Regions from separate parts of the Homo sapiens genome. Here region 2 is linked to region 1. A link means that fine-mapping ties the variant in region 1 to the expression of a gene that starts in the linked region. Tissue or cell type: unexposed skin. Region 1 holds a variant in brackets; the other region holds the start of a gene. All regions are shown on one strand. Distances are from middle to middle.

What was found.
Region 2: it holds the start of STRBP, and the variant in region 1 is fine-mapped to the expression of STRBP in unexposed skin (GTEx, PIP 0.94).

What each region holds. Positions count from the first base shown.
Region 1 is chr9:123,342,026-123,346,410 of GRCh38, forward strand. No RefSeq gene overlaps it. Among named protein-coding and RNA genes, the nearest start is that of CRB2, 12 kb to the right of the region's middle. RefSeq lists an enhancer at 1,667-1,726. The variant A/G (reference allele first, on the strand shown) is at 2,591.
Region 2 is chr9:123,266,488-123,270,872 of GRCh38, forward strand. It overlaps STRBP (spermatid perinuclear RNA binding protein), which reads right to left and starts at 2,099. Exons shown (of 19, transcript NM_018387.5): 1 at 1,949-2,099. RefSeq lists silencers at 1,825-1,874, 2,045-2,524 and an enhancer at 1,925-2,425.

The DNA of each region.
Region 1 (4,385 bases):
GTAGATTTTCAATAAACTCCTCACTTATATCCTGCTGCAGCCAAGCCCCCAGGACCCCATCTCCTTGGAGGAGCCAAGTAGGGTGGCTGCAGCCTCTGCAAGTGAGCTGACTCCTTTGGGGCATAATTCACACTTTCTCTTAGCCTCTGTCCCCCGAGGCCAAGCCTACATGGTCCATCTCTGCAGATTTTCTGCCCACGAGTTCCCTGGAATCCAGAGAACACTCCCAAGAGAGACAGTCCTTGTCACACCACTCATGATCTCCCAGGCTGCTTCTCCCCAGTGCTTAGCACATGGAGATGCATTCATTTCTTGTGAGCACGTTTATTGACTGTGTGGCTCCCCTGCCAGCCTGAACACTCCGCAAGGTCAGGCTCTGCCTCTGGTTCCCCACTCAGTCCCCAGCACCCAGCCCAGACCTGGTGCATAGAAGATGCTTGTCACAGAGATGCTGTGTGGGTGGATGGACAGATGCATGAAGAATCCGTGGTGTGGAGCACACGGGGAAGTGGCCTTTGTTCTTCCATATAGAACGGCAGAGGCTGGAAGACCAAGGATCAGAAATTCCAGAGGTGAGTTTCAGCTCTGTGAGCCCAGACAAGTGGGATCCCCTTTTGGGGGACTCGGTTTCCTTACCTGTGCCATGTCTGCATAATAGTGCCTACCTTATGGAGATGACTCTGAGCATCCAATGATAGGAACTGGGACACCCAGAAGGGAATGATGGCCTGCCAGAATTTGGGGCTGGATCAGTTGCACAGATTCATGTGCCACTCACTACCCTTCCCTGACACCCCTGCTGCCCTGGGCAAGACTTAGGAACTTGGTGACTAGCTAGTTCAGGTGACAGAGGGGCCTGGATGCTCCTTATGAGTCTCCCTTTGGGAGATGAGCCCCTGATTGAGCCTAGATCCTATAGAAATACAGTGTGGGCCAGAGGCCAAGTCATGCATGTCTCTGAGCCTTGGCCACTTTGTCTATAAAAGGCACCATAATATAGGATGAGTGTGGTGGCTTATGCCTGTAATCCTAGCACTCTGGGAGGCCAAGGTGGGAGGATCGCTTGAGCCCAGGAGTTTGAGAACAGCCTGGGCCACAGAGGGAGACTGTGTCTCTACAAAAAATAATAAAACTGATGATGTGTGGTGGCACATGCCTGTGGTCCCAGATACTTGGGAGGCTGAGGCAGGAGGGTCGCTTGAGCCTGGGAGTTAGAAGTTGCAGTGAGCTGTGATTGCACCACTGCACTCCAGCCTGGGTGACAGAGCAAGACCCTGTCTCAAAATAAATACAATATAACACAATAATAAAGCACTGAAATAAAATGAAATGGGTGATAATAGAACTCTACGGGTTGTCCCGAGGAAGCAGAGGGACCTGGAAGTAGATCCCATGGCTTGGTGCCCACAGCTATTAGGATTTTTCTTGTCAGTCGTGGTAGATTTTGGTTCTTCCATAAAGAGGAACCCATTTAGGTGTTTTTTAGAAATACCTCTCTGAATTGAGATTCCGTGACTCTGACTTCCTGGCTGACCGGGTGAGTCTGGCTCAGTTCTCAGTGTAAGCCACACCCCAGTCTTCTACCTCCCACGCAGCCTCTCTTCATTTTGTCTCAAATGGCCCTCTGCTTTCCATGGGAGGCCTGGGCTCAGTCTGGGACTAGGATCTGAGCTTAGACTGGGGTGGAAACTAGGCTCCGTCTGTAAGCAGTATTGAGGTTCAGTCTGCCTGGGAACGATGAGTCTGCGGATGACCTGGGTTGGGTCTCATTCAATGCCAGGATTGTCTGTGACAAGTATTTCAGCCTGCGTTCCTGGAAACAGATTCTGGACTGCACGTGTGTTTCTTGGGGCATGTCCTTGGGAGATCCACCTGGAAGGAAGGAGCAAGGCTGACTGGGCAGAAGGAGACTGACCCACCGTGAGGTTGCAACTGAGGTCCCTACGAGGACCCCTGGAGCTGACGATCCCCTAGGGTTTCCTAGTTGAGAAGGAGCCGTGCCTCTGCAGCCACACATGGGTCAGGCACTGGCCACAGGCTGTCCCTGGCATGGGGTATAACCCAGTGAGGTAACAGCAGTCCCAGCAGCTTGGCCCTGAAGAGGGGCTCTGGAGCACAGAGTAGTCCCCACAACCCACCCCAAAGCTCAGGCTCACACCAGTGTTTCAGTCAGACGCTGGATGTCCCCACAGGACAGGATCTTTGTCCCCAGCATCTAGCACAGGGCCTGGAGGGGCAGCACAAGCCTCAGCCTGCAAATGGAGGAAGAAGAGGAAGTGTGAAGTGGTGCCCTGTGCCGCATTGTGTGGGCCAGCTGCTCAGCCTCCCCCAGAGGTTCAGAGAGGGCTGGCCACCTGCCTAAGGTCACACAGCTGCTAAGGGCAGAGCCAGGATTGGAACCCAGGACTGGCTGAGTCCAGAGCTTATGGTCTCTCAGCCACATCAGACTGTGAGCTTATTAGAAAGCAAGGGCCGGGGGAAAGGAAAAGAGCTGCTCTTCCCAGTTCCCGGAGCAGGGCACTGGAGCGGGGCCCACCAACTCTGGCCACCTCTGGCCAACCTGCCAGGACCCATGCCCAGGGGAGGGAGC[A/G]GCATCTTGCGGGCGGGCAGCCTTTCTTGGGTAATGAGGCCCAGCCGGCAGTTTGCAGGCCTTACCATGTGAATAATTCATTTGCAACCAAGTCTGGGAATTAGAAACCGTTACTGGATGATTTATTTAACAGGGGCTGCTGCTGGGGAGAGGGGAGGAGGATTTTGAACTATAAAAGGGAAGTACATACCTTGTAGATAGATTCAGAGAGTCCCACAGACCTGGGTTTCAGTCCAGGTCTGCCTTCTACCAGCTGTGTGACCTTGAATAAGTGACTGGACCTCTCTGTGCCTCAGTTTTCTTTGTTGCAAAAAGGGGATAATAATAGAGTTGTTAAAAGGATTGAATGAGTTAGAATTTGGAGAGCACTTAGAATCATGCCTGGTTCATAGTAAGTGCTCAGTGTTTGTTGTATGAATACATGACAGCCTATATAGAATAGGAGCTTAATTGAGCATGTACTTTGTGACAGGCCCAGTTCTTTTTTTTTTTTTTTTTTGAGACGGAGTCTCGCTCTGACGCCAAGGCTGGAGTGCGGTGGTGTAATCTCGGCTCACTGCAAACTCTGCCTCCAGGGTTCACGCTGTTGCCTCAGCCTTCCGAGTAGCTGGGACTACAGGCACCCGCCACCACGCCTGGCTAATTTTTTGTATTTTTAGTAGAGACCGTGTTAGCCAGGATGATCTCGATCTCCTGACCTCGTGATCCACCCGCCTCGGGCTCCCAAAGTGCTGGGATTACAGGCGTGAGCCATGGCGCCTGGCCGGCAGGCCCTGTTCTAAGAGCTTAACATGCGTTATCTCATAGCACTCATGTAAATTGGATATTATTATTATTGCATCTATATTAGAGATGAGAAAATAGAAGCTCAAGCTGGAGCTCAGACAGCTAGTCCTGGCAAAGCAGGGATCTGAACCCAGCCAAGACTCCCTGACTGCAGGGCCCATGCAGTTAACCACATTCCCATATCACAGATCTGATGCACAGCCTAGCACAGACCTGGCTCTTATTTTAAGAAAAATGTCCCTGTCCCCGCTAAGCATTGCCACTTTCATCATGACATTTGATTCTATTAACAAACCCGACAGGTGGTCAGGGAGCATGTGGTCTCTCTCAGCTGAGGAAGCTGAGGCTCAGAGAAGGACGTGAATCGTTCAATGTCCCACAGCCCCAGATGAAAGCCAGGCCTCCCTGAGGCCTCCTAGCAATGATCACAATGTGTCTTATAACAGCTCAACCCCAGGCATGTCTGCTTACGCCAAGACTGCACTCCTGGAAGGCAGAGGCTGTGTCTTGGTTTTGCCGGATTCACTAAAGGTCCTTATTGAATAGCAGAGGAAGGAAGGAAGAGAGGGAGAGAGGCAGGAAGGGAAGGAGGGAGCAAGGGAGGGAGGTAAGCAGGCTGATATAGTAGGTAAACTGTCTCTTGTCATCTTTATGCTGCTCCTGCCATAGCTCCCCACACACCCCCCCACCCAGTAAAACATACACTGGAACACATGCTCACACGCTCCTGTCCAGGGTGAGGTCAGTGTGGCCCCTGAGCCAGGCTGCCTGGCACGTGGCTGTGAAATCGACCCAGGCACTTCTGAGGGGCCAGGTGTCCTTGGCCTCCCACAGGAGGTGGCACTTTGCCAGACCCTTGCAGAGGGTGGCGGGGTCTCCAGGCCTGTCCCTGGATGTGAGCACAGGGACACGGCAGCTCTGCCCTGTCCACCGGCTGCTGGCGGGCCTCCCGGGCTGTGCAGTGCGCTGGGTACACAGGTGTTTGGGCTTTTATGATTGCATAGGGGTC
Region 2 (4,385 bases), 76 kb before region 1:
TTAGTTATTTTTCCAACTTCTGCACTCTGCCTGATCTTCCTTAGACTCTCAGTGACCTAAAAATCTTGGCCCCTTTCATCTCTCAAACTCAAAGTGTTCCAATCTCTCCCCATACTTCCACTCCTTGGATCTTCCATACTCTCTTAAGCAACCTGTGTTCCTAGCTCTCTCCAACTTAAGCAGTCATTTCCTGCCCTAAACCTGGGCATCCTATTTCCCCCACCACCACCACCACCACTCCAATCCATCACCTATGCCTTTCTAGTTACAGACATGTCCACATACACCTCTGCCTTGCCCTTCCCTTACTCCACTATAGGTATTAAGCATTCTTCTACATCCTCTACCCCAAAATAGCCTGTCTACCTTCCTTCTTTCTCCCTACCTCCCTTCTCCCTACAGCACAAAATTCAGTGCCCCAAACCTGTGCTTCCCTCCCTCCACCTACTGTACTCCAGACCTGTCCACCTTCCCCTCCAGTCTATCCCGTTGTCCCCCTCTACTGATTTCGTTCTCACCCTCCCCTCCACCTTCCTCCTCCCCAACCGCTCCACACTTCCCGCCTCAGAAATCTTTCCTTCCATTTGTCCCCACACTTTACCTGCCACTCCAAGAACACTTCCCTTTCCCCACCCCCTTTTGCCCTCCACCTCACACACTCCACGCCACCCCACACCTGTCCCTCTCCCCCAGCTCCTGCCCCTAACGTCCTCCAACACTTGCCAAGAACCCCTCACCCTCCGTCCTACCTCAAAATTCCCTCTCTTGCTGATCCCACCTTCTTCCATACTTCCTGCATAAACACCCTCCATTTCACGCACTTCTCCCGCTATCCTTTAAATGCCCCACACACCTCCTGCTCTCCATCCCCATCACCCTTCTCCTACTGTCCCCACCTCTCTCTGCAAGCCCTCAAACTAAGTCTCTGCCCCAATGAACTTCCCCCTTCCACCCCATACTCCTCTTCCCTGAGCACCAGATACCTGCCTTTTTATCCTTACATGTCAACCCCCTCCCGCCTCCCTGCAGGCTCCCCTATACACCTGGCCACACACTCCCTCACACCCCTCGCAGGTCTCCTGGAGCCCCTGGGCCTACCCTTCATTTCCCTATCACCCCAGAAGCCTAGGCACCCTGCTCCCCTCCCTCCCTTTCAGGCGCTCCCTGCCTGCCCTCACTTCCCCCTGCCCCGACCCCCTCCTCCATCGTTCCCCTTCACGGGCGTCCCGGTGGCCTTCCTAATACCCGCCCCACTCCCTGCCCCTGGCACGCAGCGCTCCTTCCAGTCCTGCTCGAGTCCCCAGTCTTCTCCCTCCATTCCCACCCCACTCGTCCCTGCCCTCCCCAAAAGCCCCCTCATTCCCTCTTGAACCCCACAATATAGTGCCCCCCCCCACCGGACGGAATGTCCTCCATCTCGCACTCGCCTGGCCCAGGGGGCCCCCCAAACCTGCCTGAAGGCTCTCCTCCTCCATTGGGCCGGATCCCTCTGCACCCCTATTTACCCCCAAATCTGCCCACACCTTCCGCCTGCCCCCCGAAGCCTCTCCCCAGCTCCTGCCCCCAATGTCCTCCAACACCTGCCCCGAGCCCCGAGCCCTCCGTCCCGGAAGACCTCCCGGCACCGCGTCCCCCAACCCTGCCCACGCCCTCCCCTGATCGGCCGGGACCCCGTCCCCGCGAAGGTGAGGAAGGCTGCCCGCTGCCCTTGCCCGAAGCGGCCGGGGCACCGCAGCGGCGGCGGCGGCGGCCACAATGCCGGAGCCGCGGGGCCGGGATTGCTCCCTGCTCTCCGCCTCGGCCGCCACCGCCGCCGCCGCTGCTAAGGACGCACAACAAACAATGCGGGGCCCGGGCCGGCTCCGCCAACCGCCTCAACCGCCGCCTTAACCGCCGCCCGCCCGGGACGGCCCGCCGCGCAGGCGCCCGCCCCGCCGCCGGAGCCTACCCGCGCCGCCGCGCTCTGCCCGCGCCCGGTACCCGCTCCCGCTCCGCCGCCGCCGCCACCTCGCCCGCTCGCGTCTCCGGCTCCTCTGCCCAGCGGCGGCGGCTGCGGCGGCTGCTGCCCTGGTGGCGCTCGCGGCTCCGGTCTCCGCTTCGGCGGCGGCAGCGGCGGCAGCGAGCACGTGACACCGTCGAGCGCGCCCATTGGCCAGGCCAGGGGGCGGGCCCCGCGGCTGCTGGGGAACGGAAAGCCCGCCCCCTCGTTCGCCGCGCGCCCCCTCCACGCGCGTCCTGCCGCACCTGAGAGCGCCGGCCAGCGCCCGCCGCCGCCTTGCTGTGCCGCCGCCTGCGCCAAGTGCGCACCTGGGAGCGCGCAGGGAGCACTCGCCGCCGGCGGCCTTATGCACCTGCCAGCGGACGCTTACGTAAACTGCGTCCCCGCCTTCCTCCCGGCCCCAGGCCCCCGCTCGCTGCAGCACCTGAGCCCCGCTGCGCTAGCGGCGTAACTGCGGCGGAGCGGAGACGAGCTGCGCTGGGAGGCTAGCGAAATGCACGGAAACTTCGTAACTTCCGAACCTGGGAGCTGCGCCGAGCCGCGGCGGCTAGCCGCCTTCCCCGGGCCCCGCACCCCAGTGCGGGATGCCCCCCAACCCCAGCAGCCACACAAATGGAGTAGGCGTCGCACTGCCTCCCGAGGTAGAGGGGCAGGCCAGTAGGCTTTGACTTGTGCCACCGCCCACCTACTTGCTGGCTGTGTGACCTTGGCCAAGTTACCAAGAACCGTTCTGAGCCTCAGTTTCCTCATCAGGAAAACTGGGACAATAATTCCAATTTAGGAGCTGTTGGGGAGATGGCATAAGACAATAGGTGTGAATCCTGGCACACAGCAGTCGCTGAACAGAAGCTGCTACAATCACCTCTCCTTCACCTGCCTATAATGAACCTCGCTGGGATTGAGTTTGGGCCCAGGACCTCTCTGACCTCCTTATGGTTGGGTCAGACTTTGGCTGAACACCTACCAGCTCTGTGCCAGGGGCGGCGCTGGGGAAGAATTAAAGGTTCGCTTTCTATTCTACAGTCCCTGGCCTCAAGTTCTTGGTGCCCAGCATTCTGCTTGCCAGTATACAGTCCCTGCTGTATACCGGGGGGTTTGCAGGCTGCAGGGATGCACTGGCAAATGAGACAATGTCTTTGCCCTAAGACAATTCCCAGCCTGGAGCAGAAACGACCTGACCACTCAGTGCCAAGACAGAGGACCTTGAACAGCCCAGGGGTTGAGGAGGGACTCCCCACAACAGCCCCCTTGGGGCCCCTTTTCATCTTTCTAACACACCAGGCTCAAATATTTTAACAGCTCTGTTTCATTCACAGAATAAAGTGTAAAAAACCCAATTTCAACTGAAAAGGCCTTGGTGATCTGGCCTTAAGCTTCAAGGTGCACGCCCTTCCCTTTGCCCCTCCTTCAGGCCAATGTGACCCTCCAGCCACACAGAACTACAGTACTGTTGTTTCCAGAGTATGCCCAGGTGTGTAGGAGCCTGAGTCTCCTGAGACAGATGCCAGGCCGCAAATCCCTTTCTAAACCCTCTCCCCACCTCTGACCACTCACACCTTCCTTGACCCTCCTGAAAAAAATCCTGGGTATCCTTATCAATCAGCTCAGAGTATATTCTCTGGAGATCCTTGGCTGCCTCAGACACATGGTCTAAGCTCCCTCGGCTTGAACATAGTCCTGTTAAGCTATATGTATTCTCATGGCACTAGATTGTAATTGTTTAGCTGTCTGTCTCCTCCCTGGTCTCTCAGTCCCTTGAGGACAGGGTCATCTTCCTGCCTAAGTGTGTTAGGGAAGACTACACGTGCACATGACATGAGATCATTAAAGCTGGGTTTTGTAGGATGCCCATAAGTATCAGAGGGAGAAGAGGCGCCACACTGTAAAGATCCAGATTCACTGCACACTAGCTGTGTGATCTTGGAAAATCAATCTCTCTAGTCTAAGTTTACTCATCTGCCAAGTGAGACTAATAGTATTGCATATTGTAGGGTTGTTAGAAGGATTCATTGCAACCGTATATCTAAGGCACTCAGCACGGTGTCCAGCACTTGGTTACATTTTTAATTTTTTTAAAATAGAAGAACAGCATGGCATTAAGGATTCAATAGTATTTCTTGTTTCAATATCTTTATTGGGTTTGTAACTCCAAACACTGAGACAAAAGCATGCAAATTATATAAAAGGAAAGAAAGTAAAAAGTTAGGCCAGACGCAGTGGCTCACGCTGGTAATCCTAGCACTTTTGGGAGGCCGAGGCGTGTGGATCACCTGAGGTCAGGAGTTCAAGACCAGCCTGGCCAATGGGGCAAAACCCCATCTCTACTAAAAATACGAAAATTAGCCGGACGTGTTGGTGTGTACCTGTAATCCTAGCTACTCGGGAG